Homo sapiens: one gene and its partners. The protein of the gene in region 1 binds, or shares a complex with, the protein of each later gene. Each region holds a gene or a part of one and is shown in the gene's direction. Other genes may lie near its edges. The genes, in order: SNIP1, DHX16, CWC22 and CRNKL1.

Region 1 (7,026 bases):
TGTGATTTTAATTTGCGTTTTCCTTTTTTTTTTTTTTTTGAGACAGAGTCTGGCTCTGTCACCCAGGCTGGAGTGCAGTGGCACGATCTCGGCTCACTGCGACCTCCGCCTTCTGAGTTCAAACGATTCTCCTGCCTCAGCTTCCCGTAATTTGCATTTTCCTAATGGCTTATGATATTGGACATCTTTTCTTTGTGTGTCAGTGTGTGTGTGTGTGTGTGTGTGTGTGTGTGTCACCCAGGCTGGAGTGCAATGGCGTGATCTTGGCTCACTGCAATCTCCCCTTCCCAGGTTCAAGTGATTCTCCTGCCTCAGCCTCCTGAGTAGCTGGGATTACAGATGCCCACCACCACGCCCAGCTAATTTTTTGTATTTTTAGTACAGAAAGGGTTTCACTATGTTGGCCAGGCTGGTCTCAAACTTCTGACCTCGTGATCTGCCTGCCTCGGCCTCCCGAAGTGCTGGGATTACAAGCGTGAGCCACTGCACCTGGCCTTGGACGTCTTTTCATGTGCTTATTTGCCATCTATATGTATCTTCTCAGGTGCAATGTCTCATGTCTTTTGCCTGTTTATTTTTTATTTTTTATTTTTTATTTTTTGAGACGGAGTTTCACTCTTGTTGCCCAGGCTGGAGTGTAATGGCGCGATCTCAGCTCATTGCAACCTCAGCCTCCCAGGTTCAAGGGATTCTCCTGCCTCAGCCTCCCAAGTAGCTGAGATTACAGGCTCGTGCCACCATGCCCAGCTAATTTTTGTATTTTTAGTAGAGATGGGGTTTCGTCATTTTGACCAGGCTGGTCCTGAACTCCTGACCTCTGGTGATTCACCTGCCTCAGCCTCCCAAAGTGCTGGGATTACAGCAAAGTGAGCCACCATGCCCAGCTATCTTTTGCCTGTTTTCTAATACTATTATTTGCTTTTTTACTGTTTAGTGTTTAAGAATTCTTTTTATATTGTGGATACTAGCCCTTTGGGGATAAATGGTTTACAAATATTTTTTCCCAGTCTGTAGCTGTCTTCATTTTCTTAACAGGGTTTATCTCAGAGCAAAAGTTTTTAATTTCAATGAAGTCCAGCTTATCTGTTTTTCCTTTTATGGATTGTGCTTTTGATGTCATGGCTAAGAACTTTTTGCCTAGCCCTAGATCTCTGAAATTTTCTCCTAAATTTTTTTTCTTAAAAGTCCATGATCTGCTTTCAGTTTCTTTTCAGGGTTTCAGGGTTTTTGTTTTGTTTTGTTTTGTTTTGTTTTGTTTTTGTTTTTTTTGCCTATGAATGTCCACTTGCATCAACACCATTTGTTGAAAAGACCATCTTTCCTCCAATGAATTACTTTTGCTCTTTTGTCAAAAATCAGTTGGGCATATTTGTGTGGGTCTATTTCTGGAATCTCTGTTCTGTTTCATTTGTCAGTGTCTGTCACTCTGCCAATACCACACAGTCTTGATTACTATAGCTATATAATAAGTCTTGAAATTGTATGGACTGATTTTTCCCATTGTAGTCTTCTTTATAAAAATTGCTTTAGCTATTCAGCTTCTTTTTTCATCCATGTAAGTTTTAGAACAATCTTGCCTCTATTTTTAAAAAGTCTGGGCCGGTCACAGCGACTCATGCCTGTAATCCCAACACTTTGGGAGGCTGAGGTGGGCAGATCACTTGAGCTCAGGAGCTCCAGACCAGCCTGGGCAACATGGTGAAACCCATCTGTACAAAAAATACAAAAATTAGTTGGGCGTGGTGGCATGCCTGTGGTCCCAGCTACTCAGGAGGCTGAGTAGCTCCTGAGTGGGAGGATTACTTGAGCCTAGGAGGTTGAGGCTGCGGTGAACAGTGATCATACCACTGCACTCCAGCCTGGGCGACAGAGTGAGATCTGAAAGAAAAGTCTTGCTAGGATTTTGATAGGATTTGTGTTAAACTGGCGTTTGGGGGCAATAATTGACTTTTTACTATGTTAAATCTTCTAATCCATGAACATTGTGTATCTCCCCTTTTATTTAGATCATCTTTGATATCTTTTATCAGTGGTTGTAGTTTTCAGCTTATAAATCCTATACATATTTCTTTGTGGAATGATTATAAAGGGTATTTTAAATGAGTGTCCAAATGTTCATTGTTACTATATAGAAATATAATTCATTTTTGTGTGTTTATCTTCATCCTATATCCTTGCTGAACTAATGTATTCTAGTTTTTTTTTTTTTTTAAGATTACTTGGGATTTTCTACGTAGACAATCATATCTACAAATAGGGACAGTTTTATTTCTTCCTTTACAATCTGAATGCATTTTATTTCCTTTTGTTGTTTGCATTAGTCCGTTTTCATGCTGTTGATAAAGACATACCCGAGACCCGGCGATTTACAAAAGAAAGAGGTTTAATGGACTTACAGTTCCACATGGCTGGAGAGGCCTCACAATCATGGTGGGAAGCAAGGAGGAGCAAATCACACGGATGGCGTCAGGCAAGGAGAGATAAAAGAGTAATGAGAGCAGACACTCTTGCCTTATTCTCAATTTTGAGGGATGAGAATTCAGTCGTCTTTTTTTTTTTTTTTTCTTTTTTTTTTGAGACGGAGTCTCGTTCTGTTGCCCAGGCTGGAGTGGCGCAATCTCTGCTCACTGCAGCCTCCGCCTCCTGGGTTCAAGGGATTCTCCTGCCTCAGCCTCCCAAGTAACTGGGATTAGAGTCTGGGCCGATCACAGTGGCTCATGCCTGTAATCCCAGCACTTTGGGAGGCCGAGGCGGGTGGATCACCTGAGGTCAGGAGACCAGCCTGGCCAACATGGTGAAACTTCGTCTCTACTAAAAATACAAAAATTAGCTGGGTGTGGTGGTGGGCGCGTGTAATCCCAGCTACTTGGGAGGCTGAGGCAGGAGAATCACTTGAACCTGGGAGGCGGGGATTACAGTGAGCCAAGATCGCACCACTGCACTCCAGCCTGGGTGACAGAGCAAGACTGTTTTAAAAAAAAAAGCAAATTTTAAAAGACAAATAACAGTATAACAACTATTTATATAGCATTTACGTTGTATTAGGTATTATAAATAACCTAGTGATGATTTAAAGTATACAGAAGGATATTCACAGATTTTTATATAAGGAACTTGAGCATCCTAAGATATCTTTTTTTTTTTTTTTTTTTTTTTGATATGGAGTCTCGCTGCGTTGCCCAGGCTGGAGTGCAGTGGTGCGATCTCGGCTTACTGCAAGCTCCGCCTCCCGGGGTTCACGCCATTCTCCTGCCTCAGCCTCCTGAGTAGCTGGGACTACAGGCGCCCGCCACCATGCCTGGCTAATTTTTTTGTATTTTTTTTTTAGTAGAGACAGGGTTTCACTATGTTAGCCAGGATGGTCTCCATCTCCTGACCTCGTAATCCACCTGCCTTGGCCTCCCAAAGTGCTGGGATTACAGGCATGAGTCACTGCACCTGGCCCTGAGATAATCTTTTTTATCCACTGGGGATCCTGGAACCAATCTCCTGAGGATACCAAATGATTACTTTATTCTTTTCTCAACCTCTGAACCACCATTTTGTGTTTTTTTTTGGTTGTTGTTGTTGTTTGTTTGGTGAAGTGTTGCTCTGTTGCCCAGGCTAGAGTGCAGTAGTGTGATCTTGGCTCACTGCAATCTTTGCCTCCTGGGTTCAAGCGATTCTCGTGCCTCAACCTCCCCAGTAGCTAGGATTACAGGCACGTGCCACCATGCCCGGCTAATTTTTGTATTTTTAGTAGAGACGGGGTTTCACCATGTTGGCCAGGCTGGTCTCAAACTCCTGACCTCAAGTGATCCACCTGCCTCAGCCTCCCAAAGTGCTGGGATTACAGATATGAACCACCGTACCCAACTGAACCACCATTTTCGAAACAAATGTATTGATTACATGCTCATTGTAATAATACAGAGGTATGTAAAATATAAAATGAGAGTATGGTTTACTTCTCTCGTCCCCAAAATTGCACCACCTCCTCAACCAAAAAACCTCCACCTCACTTGCCAGAGGTAATCACTATGATATAGACTCTCTGTCCATCATCACATGGCCTTCTCCCATGAATCTCTCTATCTCTTCTCTTCCAAGGTCACCAGTCACGTGGGATTAATGACCTATATTACTTCAGTATGACCTTAATTTATTACATCTGCAGTGACCCTCTTTCTAAATAACGGAGAGATAAACATTTGAGACTCACCTGCATATAGGTGTATGTAAAGTATTAGGATTAGATGAAAATTACTAAGGAAATGACTGTAGATAGAAGAACAACCAACAAAGGACTGAATCCAGGGGCGATCCAGTGTGAAGAAATTGCAGTGACATCAGCAAAGAAGACTGGAAAGAAAGAGAAGCAAGAGAATCTGGTAACTTGAAGCCATTAGAAGGAAGTGTGTTGAGGATAGAGTGATTAACTCTGTTAGATGCTGCTGATAGTTAAGTGAAATGAAGACTGAGAATTGGCCACTGGATTTAGCAACATGGAGGTCACTGGTGATCTTGACCAGCAATTTTAGTGGAGTAATAAGGGTGAGACCTGATTGGAGGGGTTCAAGGGAAGACAGAGGAGAGGAATTGGGAACTGAATTTTTAAAAACAATACTTTTTCTTTCTTTCTTTCTCTTTTTTTTTGAAACAGAGTCTCACTCCGTCACCCAGGCTGGAGTGCAGTGGTGCAATCTTGGCTCACTGCAACCTCCACTTCTGGCGTTCAAGTGATTCTTCTGCCCCAGCCTCCCAAGTAGCTGGGACTGTAGGCACGTGCCACCACATCCAGCTAATTTTTGTATTTTTAGTAGAGATGGGATTTCACCATGTTGGCCAGGCTGGTCTTGAATCCCTGACCTCAAGTGATCCACCCACCTCAGCCTCCCAAAGTGCTAGAATTACAGACATAAGCCACCACACCCGGCCGTTATGGCTTATTATAATGACTCTTAATAAGGGATAAAGGACATGATGAGATTAGTCCTGGTGAACTCAAGGCAGATAGCAGTGGCAAGCTTGTAAATGTTTTGGAGTAGGAAGGGTGGTTGTCTGAGGCTCTCTCTTGATGCATGTCTGTGCTAGGCTAGGAAGTCTAGAAAAACTGAGTCCCACTCTAAGCAAGCAGCCCCTCACTTGAGCCCTGTGTATGGCAGGGAGCGGGGGGGGGGGGGGTCTTAGTCCCAGTGCTTCCACTTTTAGGGTATTGCGAATAATGCTGCAATGAACATGGATGCTCAAGTATCTATTTGAGACCCTGCTTTCATTTGTTTGGGATATCCAGAAATGGGATTGCTGGATCATATGGCGATTCTATTTTTAAATTTTTTATGGAACCACTGTACTGTTTTCCGCACTAACTATACCATTTTACATTCCCACCAGCAGTGTACAAGGGTTCTGATTTTTCCACATCTTTGCCAATACTTGTTATTTTCAGTTTTTTGATAGTAGCCATCCTAATGGGTGTGGAGTCACCTAAATTTTTAGTTTTTAATTTTATTTTTATTATTATTTTTAGAGAGGGCGGCGGGTGGGTCTCACTATGTTACCCAGGCTGGTCTCGAACTCCTGGACGCAAGTGATCCACCCGCCTCGGCCTTCCAAAGTGCTGGGATTACAGGTGGGAGCCACTGCGTCCTGCCTGCCTAATCATTTTTATTATTATTATGTATTTTTTAAATTAGGGGCCATGCTAATTTTTGTGTCATTCTAATTTTCTCCCTAATCATTTTGAAAGTCTCTTACTGCTCTCTGCTTTAAAATTTTTAACCTTAATTATCTGTAAACATTTTTGTACCTTACCTAGTCCATAACAAGAAGTTTTTTCTTTGTTTTTTTTTTTTTTTTGGTGGGGGCGGGGGGTACCAAATTTCTTTATTTGAAGGAATGGTACAAATCAGCTTAAGTGGATGTTTTGGTACAACTTATAGAAAAGGTAAAGGAGACCCCAACATGCATGCACTGCCTTGGTGACCAGGGAAGTCACCCCATGGCTATGGGGAAATTAGCCTAAGGCTTAGCTTTCATTATCACTGTCTCCCCGGGGTGTGCTTGTCAGAGAAATATTCTGCCAAGCCAGATTCGGGTGCCCTCATCTTGCGCAAGTTGGTCACATGGTCACCCAATTCTTGATGGATTTCCCCTGCTCATTCAGGTAATGTGTTTCAGTGAAGTCACACAAATGGGGGTAATTTTGTCGGTGGCCAGTTTGTGCAGTTCCAGTAGTGACTGATTCCCAAGTTTTTCCAAATGTAATGCATGCTCCATCGCATTCAGCCTGCTCTCCCAGTCATCATGGTCTGGTTTCTTGAAGTCCCGAAGGAAGAAGATTCAGCCACCTCATTGGTTCTGCAGCTTCATCAGTTTCTTGGCATGTTCCCTCTCCTCATGAGATTGGTGAAGAAAGTATTTGGCAAAGTTCTTCAAAGCCACATCATTGTGGTCAAAGTAGTAAGACATGGACAGGTAGATGTAGGAGGCATAGAGCTCCACGTTGATCTGGCGGTTGATGGCGGTAGTTCTGGCGCACCTGCGAGGGGGACGCGCAGTCGTCATGGTGGTGGCCACGGTGGCTGTGCGGCGGTGGCTGCACGGCGCTGGAGTGGCGGCGGGGGCCTTGGGACAGTCAGAGGGCCCAGTGAAGAGGTAACAGAGGGCTAGCTATGGGCGGCCAGCCGGAGTGGGGTACGAGTGCCTGGTTCCGTCCAAGCACTGTTGAACCAGGAAACTCCAGGGACTTTCCGCAAAGAACGTCTCATTTTTTTCTTTTTGAAACAAGAATACACAACAACATTTTTGTACATGAATGAAGTCCTTGGGGATCTACATCTATAAGACTTGTTTCTTTCTTTCTTTTTTTTTTTTTTTTTTTGAGACAGAGTCTCATTCTGTCCACCCAGGCTGGAGTGCAGTGGCGTGATCTCGGCTCACTGCAACCTCCGCCCTCCGAGTTCAAGTGATTCTCCTGCCTCAGCCTCCCAAGTAGCTGGGATTACAGGCGCCTGCCACCGCGCCCTTCTAATTTTTTGTATTTTT
Region 2 (7,026 bases), on another chromosome or scaffold:
CATTCAGCTTAGGCACACCATCTCCAAATACCTTCCCACCACCTAATTCCTGCACCCCTTATGTGGCTTTGTGATCTCCCTGTGTCTTCTCACTGGACAGGGACAGAGCCCTTGTAATTCATAAACTGGACTTTTTATGGTGTGAAACTAGGTAGGGTAAGCTGTTTTCCAAAGGCCTGGTCTTGTCAAGTAAAGTCACACTTAGATTCCCCAATACCCCAATAGAATTTTGAGACTCTTGAAGTTCCTTTTTTTTTTTTTTTTTTTTTTTAAACCTTTTTTCTTTTTTTTGAAACGGGGTCTTGCCCTGTCACCGAGGCTGGAGTGCAATGATGCGATCTCGGCTCACTGCAACCTCCGCCTCCTGAGTAGCTGGGATTACAGGCGCACACCACCACGCCTGGCTAATTTTTTGTACCTTTAGTAGAGACGGGGTTTCACCATGTTGGCCAGGGTGGTCTCGAACCCCTGACCTTGTGATCCACCTGCTTTGGCCTCCCAGAGAGCTGGAATTACAGGCGTGAGCCACCATGCCCAGCCTTCTTTTTATTTGTTTTGTTTTATTTTTTATTTTTATTTATTTATTTTTGAGATGGAGTCTCACTCTGTTGCCAGGCTGGAGTGTGGTGGTGCGATCTCAGCTCACTACAACCTGTGCCTCCCTGGTGGAGGAATCAAGCGATTCTCCTGCCTCAGCCTCCTGAGTAGCTGGGACTACAGGCCTGCAGTACCACACTCGGCTAATTTTTTGTATTTTTAGTAGAGGAGATTTCATCATGTTGGCCAGGATGGTCTTGATCTCTTGACCTTGTGATCTGCCCGCCTTGGCCTCCCAAAGTGTTGGGATTATAGGCATGAGCCACTACGCCTGGCCGTTTTTACTTTTTAAAATTCATTTATTTATTTTTTTGAAACAGAGTTTTGCACTTGTTGCTCAGGCTGAAGTGCAGTGGCGTGATCTTGGCTCACTGCAACTTCCACCTCCCGAGTTCAAGCGATTCTCCTGCCTCAGCCTCCAGAGTAGCTGGGATTACAGGCATGAGCCACCTCGCCTGGCTAATTTTGTATTTTTAGTAGAGATGGGGTTTCTCCATGTTGGTCAGGCTGGTCTTGAACTCCTGACCTCAGGTGATCCACCTGCCTCGGCCTCCCAAAGTGCTGGGATTATAGGCGTGAGTCACCACGTGCCCGGCCAACTTTTGGAGTTCTAAGAATGGCCTACTGGTTCCCAGGTCTCTCCTGACCAATTTATCTCATATCTCTTCCTGAAATTGACTGTGGTTAGGCTTCTGGGACATCTCAGTGCAGTTGTGGTGGTAGTGGTGTTACTGTTTTGGCCTGAATTTAATTTTTCGGGTTTTTTTTGAGACAGAATCTCATTCTGTCGCCCAGGCTGGAGTGCAGTGGCATGATCTCGGCTCACTGCAACCTCCGCCTCCCGGGTTCAAGTGATTCTCCTGCCTCAACCTCCCGAGCAGCTGGGACTACAGACATGCACTAGCATGCCTGGCTGATTTTTGTATGTTTAGTAGAGATAGGGTTTCACCATGTTGGCCAGTCTGATCTCAAACTCCTGACCTTTGGCGATCCACCCCCCTCGGTCTCCCAAAATGTTAAGATTACAGGCGTGAGCCACTGTGCCCAGCTGTAATTTTTCTTTTTCGATTACAAAAATATTTAAGCACATAGGGAAGTTGAAAGAATAGAACAAAGAACACTCATAGACACTATTCAGATTGAAAAATGGTTAATACTATGGGTAGTATTTGCATTGTAATTGTAAATGTGGTATGTTTTTTCTTTTCAGACCATTTAAAAGAGTCTTAGACATCATGGCGTTTTATCTCTAAGTACATCAGTGTGTACCTGCTAAGGATAAAGATATTGTCCTCTAAAATCAGAATGCTCTTGTCACAGTCAGGAAGTTGAACAGTAATTCTTATGTATCGACTAAGATCTCTCTACAATAAAAGATACCCTCATTACCCTCAAAATAACTTTAATGACTGCTTTTTCCTAACAAGAATGCAGTCAAGGTTCATGCATTGCATTTGGGTCTTAGATGTTAAGTTTGTTTCTCTCTCTGTCTGTCTCACCTTGCAGTGTCCTACATTCTGGATTTGCCTGATTCTTATCTTGTGGTGTTAAGTACTTCTCTGCCCTGTGCTTTCTTTGAAGCAGGAATTGGGTCTAAAGCTTATTGACACTCAGATTAAACAGTTGTGGCAGGAACACTTCTTGGGCGGTGATGTGCACTTCATATTATGTCATATCACGGGGACATACTATCCAGTTGTGTATCTATATATTAGTATTAATATCCTTTCTACCAATAGCCTTTCATCAAATGCTTTTAGAAGCCACTGGTAATCCTTTCCTGAACATGTTATTTTTATTGGGGATTGCAAAATGGTGATTTTTTTTTTTTTTTTTTGAGACAGAGTCTCGCTCTGTCGCCCAGGCTGGAGTGCAACGGTGCGATCTCGGCTCACTGCAAGCTCTGCCTTCCGGGTTCATGCCATTCTCCTGCCTCAGCCTCCTGAGCAGCTAGAACTACAGGCGCCTGCTGCCACGCCCGGCTAATTTTTTGTATTTTTAGTAGAGATGGGGTCTCACCATGTTAGCCAGGATGGTCTCGATCTCCTGACTTCGTGATCCTCTTGCCTCAGCCTCCCAAAGTGCTGGGATTACAGGCGTGAGCCACCGCGCCCGGCCGAAATGGTGATTTTTTGATTCTGTCATTCCTGTTACGTGTATTGGCTAGAATTTGTCTATAAAGAAGAGCTTTTCCTCAACAACTAGGAACAAGCTACAGTTCCTTCTTAAAAAGGGTAAATGTTTGTTTCCTTTTAAATACGAATTTTTAGAGTAAGGCGTTTGCTGTAACAGTCATTTCACTGGTGACAGATTTTTTTCCCTTGTTTTTTGTTTGTGTGTGTCAAATTGGACTCATGAATTTTTATTTTTCAGTATTTTATAATCTCACATCATTATTCTTTTTAATGCTCAAATGGCTCTGATTTTTTGCCCATATTAAAAAAAAAATCTATCTGGCTCTTCCATGGAAGGAATATTTGACTGTGGTACCCAGATTAGGTCATGATCATAAACTGCATTTTAAGTCTTTACAGAACAAACAAGAAAAGCCAAACAACTAAATAGAACCAGGCCCCTTAAGGGTAGAACAGCAGAGGGGCTTTTTTTTTAAAGATGCAGTTTTGTTCTTGTTGCTCAGGCTGGAGTGCAATGGCGTGAGCTAAGCTCACTGCAACCTCCGTCTCCCGGGTTCAAATGATTCTCCTGCCTCAGCCTCCCGAGTAGCTGGGATTACAGGTGCCCACTACCATGCCCAGCTAATTTTTGTATTTTCAGTAGAGACGGGATTTCACCATGTTGGCCAGGCTGGTCTCTAACTCCTGACCTTAGGTGATCCACCCACCTCAGCCTTTCAAAGTGCTGGGATTACAGGTGTGAGTCACCACGCCCACCCAGCCACCAGAGGGGCTTTGACCTTGCAGTAGAGGAAGTTGTGATCACAGAGAGGATGATGTCATAGTGGGAGGACTCCTGGCAGGAAAGGGCCTTATAGATATTGCCAGTTTTCTGCTGTCATCCATAATGTGTCCTGAAAAGTTTGTATCAAAGGTAAATGTGTAGAAACTAAGTGAGACACAGCATGGTGAAGAGAGGTTAGTACCAGAAAGCCAAACATCCCTGATTACATTTGCCTTACAGAAACACTCTGATGCTGTAGTCCTAACTTTTTATAATCAGTTTTTCTCCCTTCCTCAAACTACAGTCATTCCGTTTAAGACCAAAGAACATCTAACTGGGGCTGAAGATTGCCTCCTGTTGGCCCCCTCACTGGTTTCTATCTTTGTCTGAATTGTTTTCGGTTTGAGTCCTGTGCTTCTAAATGCTGGATTAGCCTTTTATTTTCCCCCTTTCCACTAATTTGAATAAAATGGCAAGAGTAAAATATAAGCTACGCAGACATCTCCCTAGTGCATCTATATTAACAAAGATGATAATGCTGCCTAAGAGGACTTTCCAGCTGGATTCTGCTGCAGGAAGATACGATGTGGGGTCAGCATGTAGCATCCAAAGAGGCCCAGATTTGAGTATGTCATTGTTTTGGTTGTGCATTGCAGAGGGAAGGTAGAGGGTGCATCCTGAGGTTCTCATGCCTGCCTGTCAGGGGATTTTTCCCTTGTAGGGATTGGTAGAGAAAGGGGTTGCTCCTCCAGCAAGATGAGGATTCGACTGTCCTTTCCCAACTCAGGTCCCTGAGCTGCGGAAGAAATCTCGCCGAGAGTACCTGGCTAAGCGGGAGCGAGAGAAGCTTGAGGACCTGGAGGCGGAGCTGGCTGATGAGGAGTTCCTTTTTGGGGACGTGGAGCTGAGCCGGCACGAGCGGCAGGAGCTCAAATATAAGCGGCGAGTGCGGGATCTCGCCCGGGAGTACCGGGCAGCTGGGGAGCAGGAGAAGCTGGAGGCCACCAATCGCTACCACATGCCCAAGGAAACCCGAGGACAGGTGAGGTGAAGCGGCGTCTGCTTCAGCCTTGGTCCCCAAGACAAGTTGTGGGGAAGGCTTCAGGGGATTGGGCAACACGTGGGTCATCCCCTTTCTTGCCTTGCCGTTCCCAATGGGCAGTGGGCGGGGGTAGTAATGGGAAGAGGGGAGAGGGCAGAGAGGACATCCTGTTTTTGAGTCTTCACATATCCCCTCTCTCTGTAGCCAGCCCGAGCTGTGGATCTAGTGGAGGAGGAATCAGGAGCCCCTGGGGAGGAGCAGCGGCGCTGGGAGGAGGCGCGGCTTGGGGCAGCGTCCCTGAAGTTTGGGGCCCGAGATGCTGCCTCTCAGGAGCCCAAGTATCAACTGGTGCTGGAGGAGGAGGAGACCATTGAGTTTGTCCGGGCCACTCAGCTCCAGGGTGATGAGGTAAGAGGGGAGCTGGGAGACTTTCTGAGGAAGACCCGTAGCGAGCTATTTAGCTCACACCTCCTTCTCTTTCCTTAGGAGCCGTCAGCTCCACCCACTTCAACTCAGGCCCAGCAGAAAGAGTCCATCCAGGCCGTCCGCCGCAGCCTCCCGGTGTTCCCATTTCGAGAGGAGCTCCTGGCTGCTATTGCAAATCACCAAGTCCTCATCATTGAAGGCGAGACAGGCTCAGGGAAGACCACCCAGATCCCGCAGTATCTCTTTGAGGAGGTACAGTCATCTCACCCTTCAGCTTGCCAGGGCACCTGGCATCAATGTCCTCATTCCTGTCAGAGCTCCTTTTACATTATATTTTTAGTAGTCACTTACCTATCTTTTCCACTAAATTGTGAAATTCTTGAGAGTAAAGACCATACCCTTTTCACATTTCTGTTCTCACTTCCTGCATTCATTTCATTTGGAAGGACGGGTAGATGGATAGGTGGAGTGGGGCGTGTATAAATGTGGACCTCCCTATGCTCCAACGTGGCCAAAAAACAAGGAGTTAAAGGACTATTTTCCTGCCTTTTTGTTAGTTTTTTTTTTTTTTTTTTGGAGACGGAGTCTTGCTCTGTCACCCAGGCTGGAGTGCAGTGGTGCGATCTTGGCTTACTGCAACCTCTGACTCCTGGGTTCAAGGAATTCTCCTGCGTCAGCCTTCAGAGTAGCTGGAATTACAGGCATGCGCCACCACACCTGGCTAATTTTTTAGTAGAGATGGGGTTTCACCATGTTGGCCAGGCTGCTCTCGAACTCCTGACCTCAAGTGATCCAGCCACCTCAGCCTCCCAAAGTGCTGGGATTACAGGTGTGAGCCACTGTGCCTAGCCCCTGCCTTATTTTGGAGACAGGCTCTTGCTCTGATGCCCAAGCTGGAGTGATGTGGCACCATCATGACTCACTGCAACCTGGGACTCCTGGGCTCAAGAGATCATCCCACCTCAGCCTCCTGAGTATCTGGGAGGTGCACACCACCATGCCCATATTAAACATTTTTTGTTTTTTTTTGAGGTGGAGTCTTGCTCTGTCACCAGGCTGGAGTGCAGTGGCGCGATCTTGACTCACTGCAACCTCCACCTCCTGGGTTCAAGTGATTCTCCTGCCTCAGCCTCCTAAGTAGCTGGGACTACAGGTGCGTACCACCACACCCAGCTAATTTTTGTATTTTTAGTAGAGATGGGGTTTCACCATGTTGGCCAGGATGGTCTCAATCTCCTGACCTCGTGATCTGCCCACCTCAGCCTCCCAAAGTGCTGGAGTTACAGGTGTTAGCCACTGTGCCTGGCCTGAAATTTTTTTTTTTTTTTTTTTGAGACAGAGTCTTGCTCTGTTGCCCAGGCTGGAGTGCGGTGGCATGATCTTGGCTTACTGCAACCTCTGTCTCCCAGGTTCAAGCGACTCTCCTGCCTCAGCCTCCCAAGTAGCTGGAAATACAGGCATGCACCACCATGCTCGGCTAATTTTTTGTATTTTTAGTAGACGGGGTTTCACCATTTTGGCCAGGCTGGTCTCGAACTCCCAACCTCAGGAGATCCGTCTGCCTCGGCCTCCCAAAGTGCTGGAATTGCAGGTGTGAGCCACTGTGCCTGGTCAAAATTTTGAATTTTTAATTTTTTTGTCACACTATGTTGCCCAGGCTGGTCTCGAACTCCTGAGCTCAAGCCATCCTCCCACCTCAGCCTCCCAAAGTACTAGGATTACAGGCATGAGCCACTGTGCCCAGCCTTCCTGCTTTTTTACCTTAGCTGGCTCTGTCTCAGCTAATCTGTTCTTTTCCAGCTCAAGTCTAGCAGAGTCATGAACTTAATTACCCAGAGCTGGGTGAGGACCCCCTTTGAGGGCCCTAGGTCTGTCATCCTATCTATTTGCCCTTCTTTTCTGGTTTTCAGCATCTGTCTTTTCCTCCTTTTCTCCTGCCTGGTTTTTACAACTTCTTTCTCTGAAATGTACCTGGTCCCAGGGTGCATATTTAGTAAAGGGCAAACTTCTTCTTTTTTCTTTGTCATTCAGGGTTATACAAACAAGGGTATGAAGATTGCCTG
Region 3 (7,026 bases), on another chromosome or scaffold:
TCTTGATGTGGTTCATACTTATCATGAATTTAGAATTTTATAATTAATGTAATTAGCATAAATGACTGTGGAAGCTGTCAGCCAGACCCAAGCCTGTAAAAAATGATGAGTTTAACATAGATTGAGGTTTTTATTTTATTTACAAAATTTTTGAACTGTTTTAAACCCTTATTTAAAAATGCAGGCAGTCACTATCATACTGGTAAATTATACAATATTTAGTCTCTTTGTGTTTTGAATCATTAATGTATTTTTTTTCCCAAATAGAAAGAACTCTGCAACATGATACTTGATTGCTGTGCCCAACAGAGGACATACGAAAAATTTTTTGGCTTATTAGCTGGGGTGAGTTCCAGCCTCTACTGAGGGAATTCTTAAAACGAATATTGTAAATTAATGATTTCTGCTTTATGGTCTGGTCTCATTTAAAAACATATTACCACTTTTGCTAAAAGCAAATTATTCTCTCCTTCCTCAGGTTTCCCACTCTCTTCACCTTCCTCTTTTTCTACTTCATTTTTGCAGTGCTTTAACTTTGCATATCACTTTTCCAGAGCTTTTTGGAATTTTCCATGATTTGTAATGATTTCCCAATAGACGACAAGTAAATGCTGTCTTTTCAAAATCTCAAAGCAGTGTCTAAAGTCAAGTACATGTTCAGGCAGCACAATTAAAGCATGATCTAAAATATTTCTTTAAGCTCTACCCTCATGTGATCACCTACATGTATGATTTTGTTTTAACATGTAAATCTCAGGTAATTAGAAACCATATATATTAACTTCTTTTTTGAGCATCATATGGCACAAAAGGATTTAGTGATATATGCTCTTTGAAAATATAAAGCATATTAATAAAGTTTTGATTCAGTAAATTTAGGATTTAATATGCTCATAATTGTATTAACATTCAATTTTTAATGGTACTGATTTTTTATTTATTAGCGATTTTGCATGCTAAAGAAAGAGTACATGGAATCCTTTGAAGGTATATTCAAAGAACAGTATGATACCATCCATCGCTTGGAAACAAACAAGTTGCGAAATGTTGCTAAGATGTTTGCTCACCTTTTATACACTGATTCACTTCCATGGAGTGTAAGTACATGGGTCAATATTTATACTTCCTTCCTAATTCCCTGTTCTCAAATAGATTTTCGTATAAGCTAGCCATATTTATCCTATTATGAAATGTGCTTTAAAATGAAATGTGTAGAACTGCTGTCTTTGAGATTATCATCATGTTATAAGGAATCAGAAAGCTAGGTAAATAATATACAAGAAATACTATCTTTGTATTATATTAACAGTCCAAACATGCCAGTGTTTCGATAGTGATGGCTAGGAGTGTCTTCAGGAAAAGTACTGCAGATTTTCATCTTCTCTGTGTACACACACGTGCATGCACACTCACATCCACATATGCCACTATTTTGGTGGTAAATGTGTCTCTGAATTACTCTCCCTTGATTCCTGAGGGAATAACTCTCCATGGTTCTCTTGTTGGGTTTGAGAAAAAATGATTGTTCTAGAAGGATGTGTTCTTTTTAGCAGACATTGAAGTTGGGTAAGCTATAGAGAGGATATCCTATAGTCATAGAACAAAGAAAGATATATTCTTGATAGGGAAATGTGCACTGGATTGAAATTTGAAAGGCGTTCATTAAGCTGGCATTGATTTTACAGCTGTTTTTCAACCAGTGTTAGTTAGCCACCACTTATATACTGAGTCATTGAGAGAGGTGCTGTGTATTCAGAGTGAATTATACATGGCCCCTCCTTTCAAGAGGGTTACAGTATAAGACCAGAGGTAAGATATGCCCATAGCAATGATACAAAATAAAAAGTCTTAGATTCTAAGAAAAGCAAAATTACTAAAGGAATTTGAAAGAAAGAAAGAGAGAAGGATGAGAAATTACATCCAGGAGGAAAGAACAGGATTATCTTGTAGAATGCCATCCTACTAATGGTAGAATGAGGCAATATCTCAAACTTAAAAACATTGGTTAGATTTTTATAGTACTTTAAGTACCAAGTATGTCCAGCTACATTAATAGGCATTCGTAATCTAACCTAGGAGACTAATTGTAATAATTTTTGACTTCTTTTTTCCCCTCTTTGAGAAAATGAAGTGAGAATTTTAAACAATTAACCAACTAATGGGCCCCCCAAACACATAACCCATAAAAACTAGAGGTTACTTTTATTTTTATTTTCCCTAAAAATATTTCTTTAGGCATTTCAGTTTTTAAGCCACAGTCTTAATATTCAGAATAAACCATTATACTTTCTGTCTTTTTTTAAATCGTATGTTATGTGTGCTAAACAAAATTGTAGCCTAATGTGCTAAGTGGCATTTTGCCCCAAACCTTCATATACACCACATTTTGATGAGTAAGGTTTAGGAGCTAGTAATCTTTACCATTATATGCTCAAGAGAGGATATCTTCCCTGCTATAAAAAGCACATTACTCAAAACAGAGAATGAAATCTATTTCTGTCGCATCTTAACATTTTGAAAGTTAGTATAGAGAAGTAGTTTTAAACTTTATGTCAGCATAAGGGGAGATATTCAGAGATAACTCTGGTTGAAGATGGGAATAAATAGTAATTTTGAGAAACACTTAAACCTACAAATATTGGTCACTATGTCCTGTCTTTTATAAATTAAAATATACTTGTCTTTTTTTATTTTAATTTTCAGGTTCTTGAATGTATAAAACTGAGTGAAGAAACCACTACATCATCCAGTAGAATTTTTGTCAAAATATTTTTCCAGGAACTGTGTGAATACATGGGTCTTCCTAAACTTAATGCAAGATTAAAGGATGAGTAAGTTTGCCATTAAGCACTTTTTATTCTTATTGACCTCTGGTTTTCTCCCATTGTAGCAGACATAAGCCCATCCGAGACTGTAAAAACAAGAGCTAAGCCCCCTGAGACTTTCTTCATCCATTAATCACTGTGAATTTCATGTTATGTCACACAGGACAACATGCAACTTTTAGTGGTGGTTTTTAGTTTAAGTGGAGTTCAAATTAATGCCTTTTTAGATTTTCTTAGAAAATACAGAATTGTTTTTGTATGCTCACTTGAATTCTCCAGTGATATTTATAATTTTATTTTCTTTTTACCCTAATTTTAAGCCTTAGAATGATAACTAATATTATCAGTGGACAGTTTTGAGTATATATTTCATCTATTAATAATTGTTCAAAATATTACATAGAACTAGAGCCTTATTTCAGGATTATTATGTAATCCCCTCTCACCTTTCTTATTTCCTGTTTGTTCAGATTGCCACTTAGGTTGACTTCTACTCCATTGACACTACTGAAATCATCCTTTCAGATTTCTCAGTGACCACCTGCCATATTCAGTTGTCTTTCTCAGGCTGCATGCCTCTTCACTTCTCTGCCTCACTTATGCAGTTGACTACCTACTCACTGTGGCTCCATACTTTCTTCTCACTTCCTCTCTCAGTCTTCTCCTCAGCCTGCCTCTTCAGTGTTCCTGGGTTCCACACACTGTCTCTGGACTATTCCATCCACTTCTCTTGGCTTCATATACTTACTTATTTGGTCCCTGTCTACTTGACCAGGCTCGTCTTCTCTCTCTTCAGCAAGCTGCACTCCAGCCATACCAACACTGCCAAGCTTGTTAAACATATCTGGCTCTTTCATGCTTCCTTACCTCAGTTTCCACTGCTGGCATTCTCCTGTCTTATTGATCTATCTGGGAAACTCTTAATCATTCTTCTTATATTGTACCTTTTTCTGTGAGAAAGTTTTTTCTGACTCCACTGAGTAGTTACTCAGTGTGGTGCTGAAAACCAAATGTCCAAAACCACCTTGTATTGTTAGTGTCTTTCTGGTTGTCTCACTCCATATATATTGTAATTATATGGTCTTCATCCTTGATTTCTCCCTTTTGTTGATGACTTCCACCTCTCCCCCAGTACTTGGCACAGTTCTATGTATGTGTGTGTACGTGTACATACACAACAGAGAAGGTTTTTAAAATTTTTTGTACATATATTCACTATATATACGTGTGTGTATATATATACACTATATATATTCACACGTGTATATATGTGTATATATTTATCTTTCTATATGTGTGTGTGTAAAAAAAGTTTTTTAAAAACCTCCTACATTGTATAATGATAGAAATCAAGTTTGGTACATTATTACTTGACCCTACTCATTTCATTTAGATAGCACGTAGCCTAACCTAATAAATGACATCAACTAGTTACTTGGTTGTATTTCATTTAGTAATTTAATATATGAAAAATCTGAAAAATGACTAAGGATTTTACCTTTTTATCTTTAAGCAATGTGTTCTCTTTTGTTTATTTTTTTCCTTTTTAGAACTCTGCAGCCATTCTTTGAAGGATTATTACCCCGAGATAATCCAAGAAACACTCGGTTTGCCATCAACTTCTTTACTTCTATAGGTCTTGGAGGTTTAACGTAAGGATTATTCTCAGAATTTATGTTCAGATTATAAAATTATCTCATAATTGTCTTTGAAATAGAATCTAACAGATTATATTTTAAATTAGGGATGAACTGCGGGAGCATCTCAAAAATACACCAAAGGTCATTGTGGCGCAGAAACCAGATGTTGAGCAAAATAAATCCTCCCCATCCTCTTCCTCTTCAGCGTCCTCCTCTTCAGAGTCTGACTCATCCGACTCTGATTCTGACAGCAGTGATAGCAGTTCAGAGTCTTCCAGTGAAGAGAGCGACTCTTCATCCATCAGTAGTCATAGCTCTGCCTCAGGTATTGAAGCTTATGTGTAATTTGGCTTGCTCTTTTCTAATAAATATGTTGCTGATATATATGAAGGAAGAAAATAATTTGATTGTTTATTTGTCTTAGAGATCAGTTGTTTAAAAGCCACAATTAATACAAATGGTCCCATCTATCATTCTTGCAGTCTGTAATACAACATTTATAATGCTGGGATTACCTTTTGACATCCTCATCATAGAAATGAAAATATTTCATTCGCAGATACTTATCTGAGTGATGACTGATATGAACCATCCATTCATAATGTTTGTAATCTAGTTTATAGGAGCTATCCTGATGTTTTTATTTTAAATAAATTTTAGTTTTTTACTTTTAATATTAAAGCTGTTTGTAATTGAGATATATCATACATTCATTGTGGATCTCAGATGCTATATGAATTTTTATAAAGGGAACACATCCTCATAGCTAGCACACAAATCAAGATATACCGGTACCCCAGAAGTTCTCTGTGTTTCCTCTCCCAGTTACTACTCCTTCCATCCTCATGGCAGCTACTATTCTGATTTGTAATTTCATAAATTAATTGTGCCTGTTTTTACCTTTAGCATTATGTATTATGGACTCCTTTTTATGTCTGGCTTATTTTTTTACCATTATGTTTGTGAGATTTAGATGCATTACTGCATTTAGTTATAGTTAATTCAGTAATATTGCTATGTAGTTTCCTACTATATGAATATACCACAATATATATTTATCATTTTTGCTCAACAGACTTTAGATTTTCAAGTGATATTTCCATGTATATTCTTGTACATATCTTTTGATGACCTTATTTATTTATTCACATTTCTACTGGGTATGTACCTATAGGTGGAGTCAGTGTGTCATAAGATGTGCATATATTTAGCTTTGGTGAATACTGTCAGTTTTCCAAGTGGTTATTCCTATTTACACTCCCACCGGCCATGTATAAGAGTTTCATTAGCTCCCATTCTCATTAATACTTCAAATTGACCGTCTTTTTCATTTCAGCCATTCTGGTGGATGTGTAATGGTACTGCATGGCGGTTTTAGTTTTAATTTGCATTTCAACTAGAGAAGTTAAATGCCATTTTATCCATTATTGGCCATTTGGATTTTTGTTGTCAAGTGGCTGTTCAAGTATTTTACCAATTTTTTTTAGTTAAGTTGTTTTCTCTGTTGATTTGTAGGTTTTCTTTACATATTCTAGATATGATATCTTTTGTACATATATGTATTGCAAATAACCAGTCCCATTCTTGTCTCTCTAGCCCTGCAAGGCTACCAGACCTCTGGTGTCTCTGTCCCTCAGTAGCATCCCTGAATCAGCAGATGCTCCCAGGGAGAAAGTAGCTGTAGAACATCACTTACTTCTCAATGTTTCTGCTTTCTCCTGCATCTTGGCCCCTCTAGTACTTGTTTTTCCACTAGCTCTCTGATGCCTTTATATTTTTTACTTTGTAACTGTAACCTTTTATTCTGAGCTAATTTTAGATTTAGGAAAGTTGCAAAAACAGTACAGAGAATTTCCATATACTCTTCATTCCAACTTCCCCTAATGGTAGCATCTTACATAACACTGGTTCATTTATCAAACTAGGAAATTAGCATTGGAACAGCATTATTGACTAGACTACAGATGTGATTTGAAAACCAGTTTTACCACTAATGTCGTTTTTCTTATTTCAGGATTCTGCTAGCATTTAATTGTATTCTCAGTTTTCTGCATTCTATGATAGTTCCTCTCGGGCTTTCCTTGTTCTTAATAGCTTTAACACTTTTGAAGTCCTCTGGTCACTTATTTTGTAACCTGTCCCTCAGTATGGAGTTTCGTCTGATGTTTTCTCCTTATTAGAATGAGATTAGACATTTTTGGCAAGAGTACATTAGAAACAATGTGTTGTTCTTAGTGCATCTTATCAAGAGGTTCATAATTTTATTTTGGGTGACAACCTTGATCACTTGAGTAAGGTGGTGTCCACTGGATGTCTTCAGGGAAACTATTTTTCTCTGTGAAAATGTCTTGTAGGGAGGTAACTTGATACTATGCAAATCTCTTTTTCCTCCAGCTTTTACTCACTAATTTTAACATCCATCTTTGGATGGTTAAAAAATCACCTAATGGTGATTTTTTATTTGTCTGTTTTCTTCTACATCTAGTAATTGAATTTCTTCTATAAGAAAGTATTGTCCCTCTTCCCTCATTTATTTATTTAGTCAACTGTAAATATCAATA
Region 4 (7,026 bases), on another chromosome or scaffold:
TGGTTTGATTACTTGCGCTTGGTAGAAAGTGACGCAGAAGCTGAAGCCGTGAGAGAAGTCTATGAAAGGGCCATTGCCAATGTCCCACCCATTCAGGAGAAGAGGCACTGGAAGCGCTACATTTATCTTTGGATCAACTATGCACTCTATGAAGAATTGGAGGCAAAGGTGAAAAAACAGAATTATGTGTCAGCTGATAATGGTTTCCTGTCTTCTGTATTCACAGCTCACCTATTGTGGATGTTTGTAATTCTTGAAAGAAGGAAATTTAGTTTTAAATTTTTATAGGCTTCTGTTCATCCATACAGTTATATATTCGCTCTGCAACATTTTAAACCCTCTGTGCTTGTTGTGGCCACACGTGAGGGGCTTTTTTAACTTTGGTTTGATTTTTACTTGAGGCACAACAAGATATCACTTGGAGCTTGAAAGAGAACAGTGAACCAGCCCTTAATTTAGTGAAATATAGTTTCCTGGATTTGCTCATTAATAGGAGTAATTCTGGCTAGATTATGCATTTTTGCTTTTAGCAAAAATCAAGTGGCATTTTCAGAAATCATTTGTATTAACCTTCTGGGTTTGATCTGAGACTATGAAACATCTTTGTTTCTTTCTGCCATCAGGCAAAACGGCTTTCTACAAAGAAGGGCTTAGAAGTTTGGTGGCTATCTTGTTGGTGATTCTTAAACTGAAGTTTCATGGCCGTTCATACTTTAGATCATAAATCAGGGTTTGCAAGTAACAACTTGTGAAACATGCTGTTTTGGGGGTGTACATTTTTACCAATATCAGTAAAATTAGTAACTAGTAAAATGAGTGTTAGCAGCAGACTTCAATATTTTGTGAAAATTTCTTATCCTAATACAGGATCCTGAGAGGACAAGACAGGTGTATCAAGCCTCTTTGGAACTAATTCCTCACAAAAAGGTATGTTTGCTCTAAAGTGTTCCATTTCAAACAGGTCAGAATCCTCTTCTGTTACTTGTGAAGTAATTCAGTGAAATAATATTGATTGATAAAATGCTTCCCTGTCCCACCATGGACAACATAAATAAGACTGAGATATGCTCCTTGCCTCTGAAAACAGCTCACAGACTAGGTTGGAGGACAACCTGCATTGACAAACAAATAATATAAATTCAGAGAAGGCTAGGTAATGTGAATAGTCTGAGTGGAAGGAGAAAGACATCCATGCAGAGAGCACACAACGTGTGCGGGGGACACACAGGCGGGTTTGTTGGTAACAGTGAGTGTGTGCATGCACAGATGAATGTGCCCCTTGTGTAGATGGTTGAGATGTTACCTCCGCCTTGTTTCCCAGCACGAGAAACAAAACGTGTTTCCTTCTGTAGAAGTGTTGACTGAGTTACTTTTCAGAATAGAGGTAGGACATTCTGCCCATATACAAGCATGCCTACAAAACAAAGTCTGTTCTGAGCAGAGGCTACCGTGCCATACAGTACAGTACAGTATCTGGATCATGGTTCTCAGGAGAGGTTACCATGCCATGCAGTACAATATAGTATCTGGATCATGGTATGTGGGTTTCTAACTTTTGTGAAATGAATGTGGTCTTTGCTTGTAAATAAGCAGAGTACATTCCTCTTACTCTGAAGTTTTAGAGAAATCGAATTACCAATGGCTTTGGTTAATTTAAATTAATTTTAATTCAATTTAATTTGGATGAGGCTTTTAAGCTAGATATTTTTGTGCTTTTGTTTTCTAGTTCACATTTGCCAAAATGTGGATACTGTATGCACAGTTTGAAATACGACAGAAGAATCTGTCATTAGCCAGAAGAGCATTGGTAAGTAAAGAAAGGATCAAGATGTCTCATCAAGTTCTATGAGAAAGAAATTAAAATCTTGGTGCTTGGAAGTTGTACAGTTCCTACTTTAAAGAGTGACAGAAGTATTATACCTTTATAGCCTGGGACATGTTAGAAAACATGCGTCCTCTGTAAAAACACTGACTAATAATGCGTAAATTATTCTTATTACCTGGGGCAAATTAACATTCTGTTTCAATATTGGAAACTTCTATAGCTACCAGTTACTAAATCTTTCCACAGACTGGAATTAGTAATCTGATCCTGTGCAAACTTTTTGGTGTGTTAAATGCACTTTTAATTGTTCCACTTTTTTTTTCTTTTTTTTTTTTTTGTTTGTTTGGTTTTTTTTTGAGACAGGGTCTCGCTCTGTTCCCCAAGCTGGAATGCAGTAGCGCGATCTTGGCTCACTGCAACCTCTGCCTCCTGGGCGGAAATGATCCTCCCATGTTGGCCTCTCAGAATGCTGGGATTACAGGCATGAGCCACCATGCCTTGTCCTTTTTATTTATAGGAGGTTTTATGCATTTGACATCCCTATTCCCTAGGAGATCCTGAGAAACTTTCAAATCTTATTTTATTTAGTTGCCCAAACAATTCTGGAACACTGCCTCTTGCTGAGTGAATTAGAGGAGTTTCCTTCAGCCTTTTGTCAAGAACCAGTAAACATTGTGATACCACAGAGGGAAAGAATGGTAGGCCATGTTGACTTTGCAAGATTCTTCCTCAGCAGAGAACAGCCTCTAGGGCAGTGCAATAACTGCACAGATTAAATCCACTACAGTATCACAGTGGTCTGGTTATTTTATTTTCCAGGGAACTTCCATAGGCAAATGTCCAAAGAACAAATTATTTAAAGTTTACATAGAATTGGAGCTACAGCTTCGAGAATTTGACAGATGCCGGAAGCTTTATGAAAAGTTCCTGGAATTTGGACCTGAAAATTGTACCTCATGGATTAAATTCGCTGAATTAGAGACAATCCTTGGTGATATTGACAGAGCACGGGCAATCTATGAATTAGCCATCAGTCAGCCACGTTTAGACATGCCAGAGGTGAGCATCTCAAGTCAAATATAATTTTGTTTGAGATACGTGTTTAGTCTTACTTTAGATGACCATCTAAATGTGGGTGTATTTTAGAGTATAACGATGATCTAACTAACTTAGTCTCTTCTACTCAGATTAGGCTTGTACGTGGAAAGGTGGCTGTGGGGGACAGGGGAAGTAGCCCTCTCATTAGATACCAGAGCAGTAGACATCCAGGATGATGCCCAGGATGAACTGGGATATCATGGGGGTGGGTGACGCCCCTTCTGCAGCAGGAAAGCCTAAAGGGGCTGGGGAAGAGGCCAGGCAAGGAAGAAGCCAGCAGGCTGGCCCACCCGGAGAACGAGGGGGATGGAGGTAGGAACTGCACATCCCTGTATTCTCTAAACCAGGATGTCCTTGCAACTTCTGTTGTCACTGTCCTGAAAGTCCTCGCCTGCCTTCAGTAGTTAAGCTTGACCCACAAGGTAGCACCAAACCACAGCTAGGAAAGATTTGAATCTCACATGAGTCGTAGAACTCACCCAGCCGTTTTGTTAATCTCATGCACTAACATGACCCTGCATTTAATGGTTTGGCCCCCTGATTGCATTAATTAAGGCAGGGCTTTGGGTATCACTGAGTTCATCAGTTGTCCTCGGCTCCTCCACCAGACTGCCAGCTTTCAGGTGTCCATGCCACGGTTTATTCATCCTTATTCCCTGCCAGGCTGCACCGAGCCAGTGCGCACCTGTTCAGTGAATGCTTGTTGCACTGAACTCTCATAATAACAAGGAATGTACAGTAGAGGTAAGAACATGCATACTGGCTAACCTGGGCCTGTTTTCTCTCTGGACGCTCAATTGCGTGTGGCTAGAATATGGAGTACCTGGGAGATGCTTGGCAAGTTTCTCAGCTCTTGATAAGTCAAGCATTTGAAAAACTTCCAAAGAGAATCTCTAAGACTGAATCCAAGGCCCTTTTTCTGTAATCTGGAATTCTAGCCAAGTTTTGGCCAGCTTATAGATACCAATGTTATTTATCTTATCCACATGTGTTCTTTAGTTGTTCAGTAAAAATCCTATGTTCCTAGATGTAGGTTAGAGTGATACTTCAGCTGTGCTTTGGATGGGGGCATGCTGCTTTGTAAATGTCAAGACTGACCCATTTACTTTTCTTCCTTAGGTGCTTTGGAAATCATATATTGATTTTGAAATTGAGCAGGAAGAAACAGAAAGAACACGAAACCTTTACCGGCGGTTGCTTCAACGGACGCAGCATGTCAAGGTATCCTTGCTTTGTAGATGATCTTTCATTTTGCTTGAATCAGCAGTCCAGAAGAAAATGATATATTTCTGTATTTTAAGTGTTTGGGTTTTTGTTTTTTTTTTTTTTTTAATGACTTCCTTGCTTTTCAAGAGAAACGTGAGTCTCAGAGGACTTTGGAATGTTTGGAATGTTAAGTTTATACCAGGTCATTGTTTATGCTGCATGTGAGTAGCTTGGGTATCACAAGATTGAAAAAAAGTTAAACTATTTTTTTTTTTTTTGAGACGGAGTCTTGCTGTGTCTCTAGGCTGGAGTGCAGTGGCGTTATCTCGGCTCACTGCAACCTCCGCCTCCCAGGTTCAAGCAATTCTCCTGCCTCAGCCTCCAGAGTAGCTGGGACTAGAGACGCGCACCATAATGCCCAGGCTAATTTTTCTATTTTTAATAGAGACAGGGTTTCACCTGTTGGCCAGGATGGTCTCGATCTCTTGACCTCGTGATCTGCCCACCTCAGCCTCCCGAAGTGCTGGGATTACAGGCGTGAGCCACTGCACCCAGCCAAGTTAAACTCTTTTCAAGAGTTTAAGACTATGTCAGACATTTAATTGTAGAATGTAGAATCAAATATTTTCAGTGTTTATATTGAAGCATATATTCATTGTTTTCATCTGTGAAACATTAGTGATGCACACATTACTTTCCGATGTCATTAACTGGGAATTCGCTTTATTATTACTACATTATTATCTTCTGAGTGATATGGTTAATTTGGTTCAATAATAACTTTTTTTAAAGGTATGGATCAGCTTTGCTCAGTTTGAGTTGTCTTCAGGAAAAGAAGGAAGTTTGACTAAATGCAGACAAATTTATGAAGAAGCTAACAAAACCATGCGAAACTGTGAAGAAAAGGAAGAGAGACTTATGCTGCTGGAATCTTGGCGAAGTTTTGAAGAAGAATTTGGAACAGCTTCAGATAAGGAGAGAGTAGACAAACTCATGCCAGAGAAAGTCAAGAAGAGAAGAAAGGTCCAGACTGATGATGGGGTAAGAACTCTGCCCTGGGACTGTTCATCTCACGTCACATGAGTAGAAACACTTCTGACGTCGAAATGTGGACTTTTAAGTGGCATATGTACAATCTTAGAATGGAAGCAGACCACCTGGAGTAGGAGATGGTTGCAATCTGGCTGTTATGGAAACACGGGGTAGAACATATGGTCCAGTCAGAGGTGGAGAACGGGAAGGGGTTGGCAAAGGTGTTTTGGTGATGGTTGAGTCTGGGAACTTCATGAAGTGTGATATTTTTAGAGCATTTAATAGGAAGTAAGTGTGGAGGAAGATGGAACTGAACTTTCAGATAGGAGCCTATCCAGAGAAGGCTTGTAGGCGGTAAGAAGGAGTTTGGTGGGAGTCAGTGAAGGCTGTTTTGCATAAAATGACGTGACCAGATTGCTAGCCTCTCATCCTGGCAGACTCAAGGGGCTTAGATTGGAGAAAGAAGACCCATCAGGAAGCAGTTTTTATAAGCTGAGCAAGACATGGAAGCTGGAACTAGAACAGGGCCACAGGGCCTGTTAGAACAATATTTGGGAAGTGAAATCAGTGACTGATAGGAGGTGAGGATGGGAAGGTAGGGAGTTGGAATAATAATGCACAGATGTATGGCTTTTGCTACTGGGTGAATATTATGTAAAGATCGTTAAACGTTTTCTTAAGTGTAAGACTGCACAATGTAGTTGGAGACACTGAACATCTTGGTTGGCTATAGAGGAGCTGTGCTTAGATTTTTAGAATGTTTTTCTACCAGTTTAGTTCTCACTGAGCTACAGTTGCTGCTTACTCACTCCCAGTCTTTCAGACCCAGCCCTTGTTCTTTCTGTAGTAGACTTTGATGTTATTTTGTAAAATGGAGGTAATCATCCGGATTTCCAGTAAAAATTCTTCACTCTGATATGTGAGTATATCACCCACGTTTGCTTATCTTTTCATTTTTTATTTCTGTAGTCTGATGCAGGCTGGGAAGAATACTTTGATTACATCTTTCCAGAAGATGCTGCCAACCAACCTAACCTCAAACTCCTGGCCATGGCCAAACTGTGGAAGAAACAGCAGCAGGAAAAGGAGGATGCTGAGCACCATCCAGATGAGGACGTCGATGAGAGTGAATCCTGATCTTTTTTTCATAGACAAATGTTTTGTTATTTTTATAAATTAATTGTTTGGAACTCTTGTGACTCCTGGAAGTTCTTATATATTTCACCAGTAAGAAATTGATTGGTATCTTTGATGGCTACTTTTTAAGTTATTTTTTAAATGCTCTTGGGTTAGCTAGGGGTAGGGATTGCAAGTAAAGGACTTTTTTAACTGCTGGATTTGTTTTTCCAACTGAGTCCAAACTTTTCTAATGTCTGTCCACATCATGCATTAGGAAATGTAATTAAGGTAACATTCTACAGTTACTTTTCATGTCATACCCATAAAGATAGTTTATGCATTCATCTGAAATGTGTAACTTTTTCATGTCTTCAGAGTCACAGACTTGAGTTCATTTCCCAGCTCTGCCACTCATGATTATATAACTTAATTTTCATTTTCCTCATTCACAAAATGGGCCAATAGTTTGACAGCTCATTTTGAAGATTACATTATAAAAGGAATATACCTGGTGGGTGCATAGTAAGTGCTCAGTAAATTGTTTGTTCTAAGCCACTTTTAAAAATGGTTTCATTCCTTGTAGAATTGAATGCGAGTGGATTAATAATTTACCTTACTTTCTTACTAGTGTCCAGTTATATTGTTTTTTAGAACAACACTTGGAAAATAATTTGCAGTGATTATATTTCTGAACAAGGTTCAGAAAACATTGTTTACTAAGAATTTAGTCTAATAATTTCAGTTAG

What was found.
Region 2: SNIP1 (region 1) and DHX16 share a complex: the UniProt entries of both Homo sapiens proteins name them as parts of the minor spliceosome.
Region 3: SNIP1 (region 1) and CWC22 share a complex: the UniProt entries of both Homo sapiens proteins name them as parts of the minor spliceosome.
Region 4: SNIP1 (region 1) and CRNKL1 share a complex: the UniProt entries of both Homo sapiens proteins name them as parts of the minor spliceosome.

The regions. Positions count from the first base shown.
Region 1 is NC_000001.11:37,544,283-37,551,308, reverse strand, and holds part of SNIP1 (smad nuclear-interacting protein 1), read left to right. Parts: intron 1-5,850; exon of another isoform or gene 5,851-6,746; intron 6,747-7,026. UniProt on the Homo sapiens protein: Required for pre-mRNA splicing as component of the spliceosome. As a component of the minor spliceosome, involved in the splicing of U12-type introns in pre-mRNAs. Down-regulates NF-kappa-B signaling by competing with RELA for CREBBP/EP300 binding.
Region 2 is NC_000006.12:30,662,990-30,670,015, reverse strand, and holds part of DHX16 (pre-mRNA-splicing factor ATP-dependent RNA helicase DHX16), read left to right. Parts: intron 1-2,688; exon of another isoform or gene 2,689-2,831; intron 2,832-3,202; exon of another isoform or gene 3,203-4,121; intron 4,122-4,282; coding exon 4,283-4,537; intron 4,538-4,741; coding exon 4,742-4,945; intron 4,946-5,023; coding exon 5,024-5,215; intron 5,216-6,994; coding exon 6,995-7,026. UniProt on the Homo sapiens protein: Required for pre-mRNA splicing as a component of the spliceosome. Contributes to pre-mRNA splicing after spliceosome formation and prior to the first transesterification reaction.
Region 3 is NC_000002.12:179,948,276-179,955,301, reverse strand, and holds part of CWC22 (pre-mRNA-splicing factor CWC22 homolog), read left to right. Parts: intron 1-267; coding exon 268-345; intron 346-944; coding exon 945-1,097; intron 1,098-2,703; coding exon 2,704-2,831; intron 2,832-4,375; coding exon 4,376-4,477; intron 4,478-4,569; coding exon 4,570-4,790; intron 4,791-7,026. UniProt on the Homo sapiens protein: Required for pre-mRNA splicing as component of the spliceosome. As a component of the minor spliceosome, involved in the splicing of U12-type introns in pre-mRNAs. Promotes exon-junction complex (EJC) assembly.
Region 4 is NC_000020.11:20,035,467-20,042,492, reverse strand, and holds part of CRNKL1 (crooked neck-like protein 1), read left to right. Parts: coding exon 1-168; intron 169-867; coding exon 868-927; intron 928-1,726; coding exon 1,727-1,807; intron 1,808-2,644; coding exon 2,645-2,884; intron 2,885-4,042; coding exon 4,043-4,144; intron 4,145-4,921; coding exon 4,922-5,170; intron 5,171-6,130; coding exon 6,131-6,298; 3' UTR 6,299-7,026. UniProt on the Homo sapiens protein: Involved in pre-mRNA splicing process. As a component of the minor spliceosome, involved in the splicing of U12-type introns in pre-mRNAs.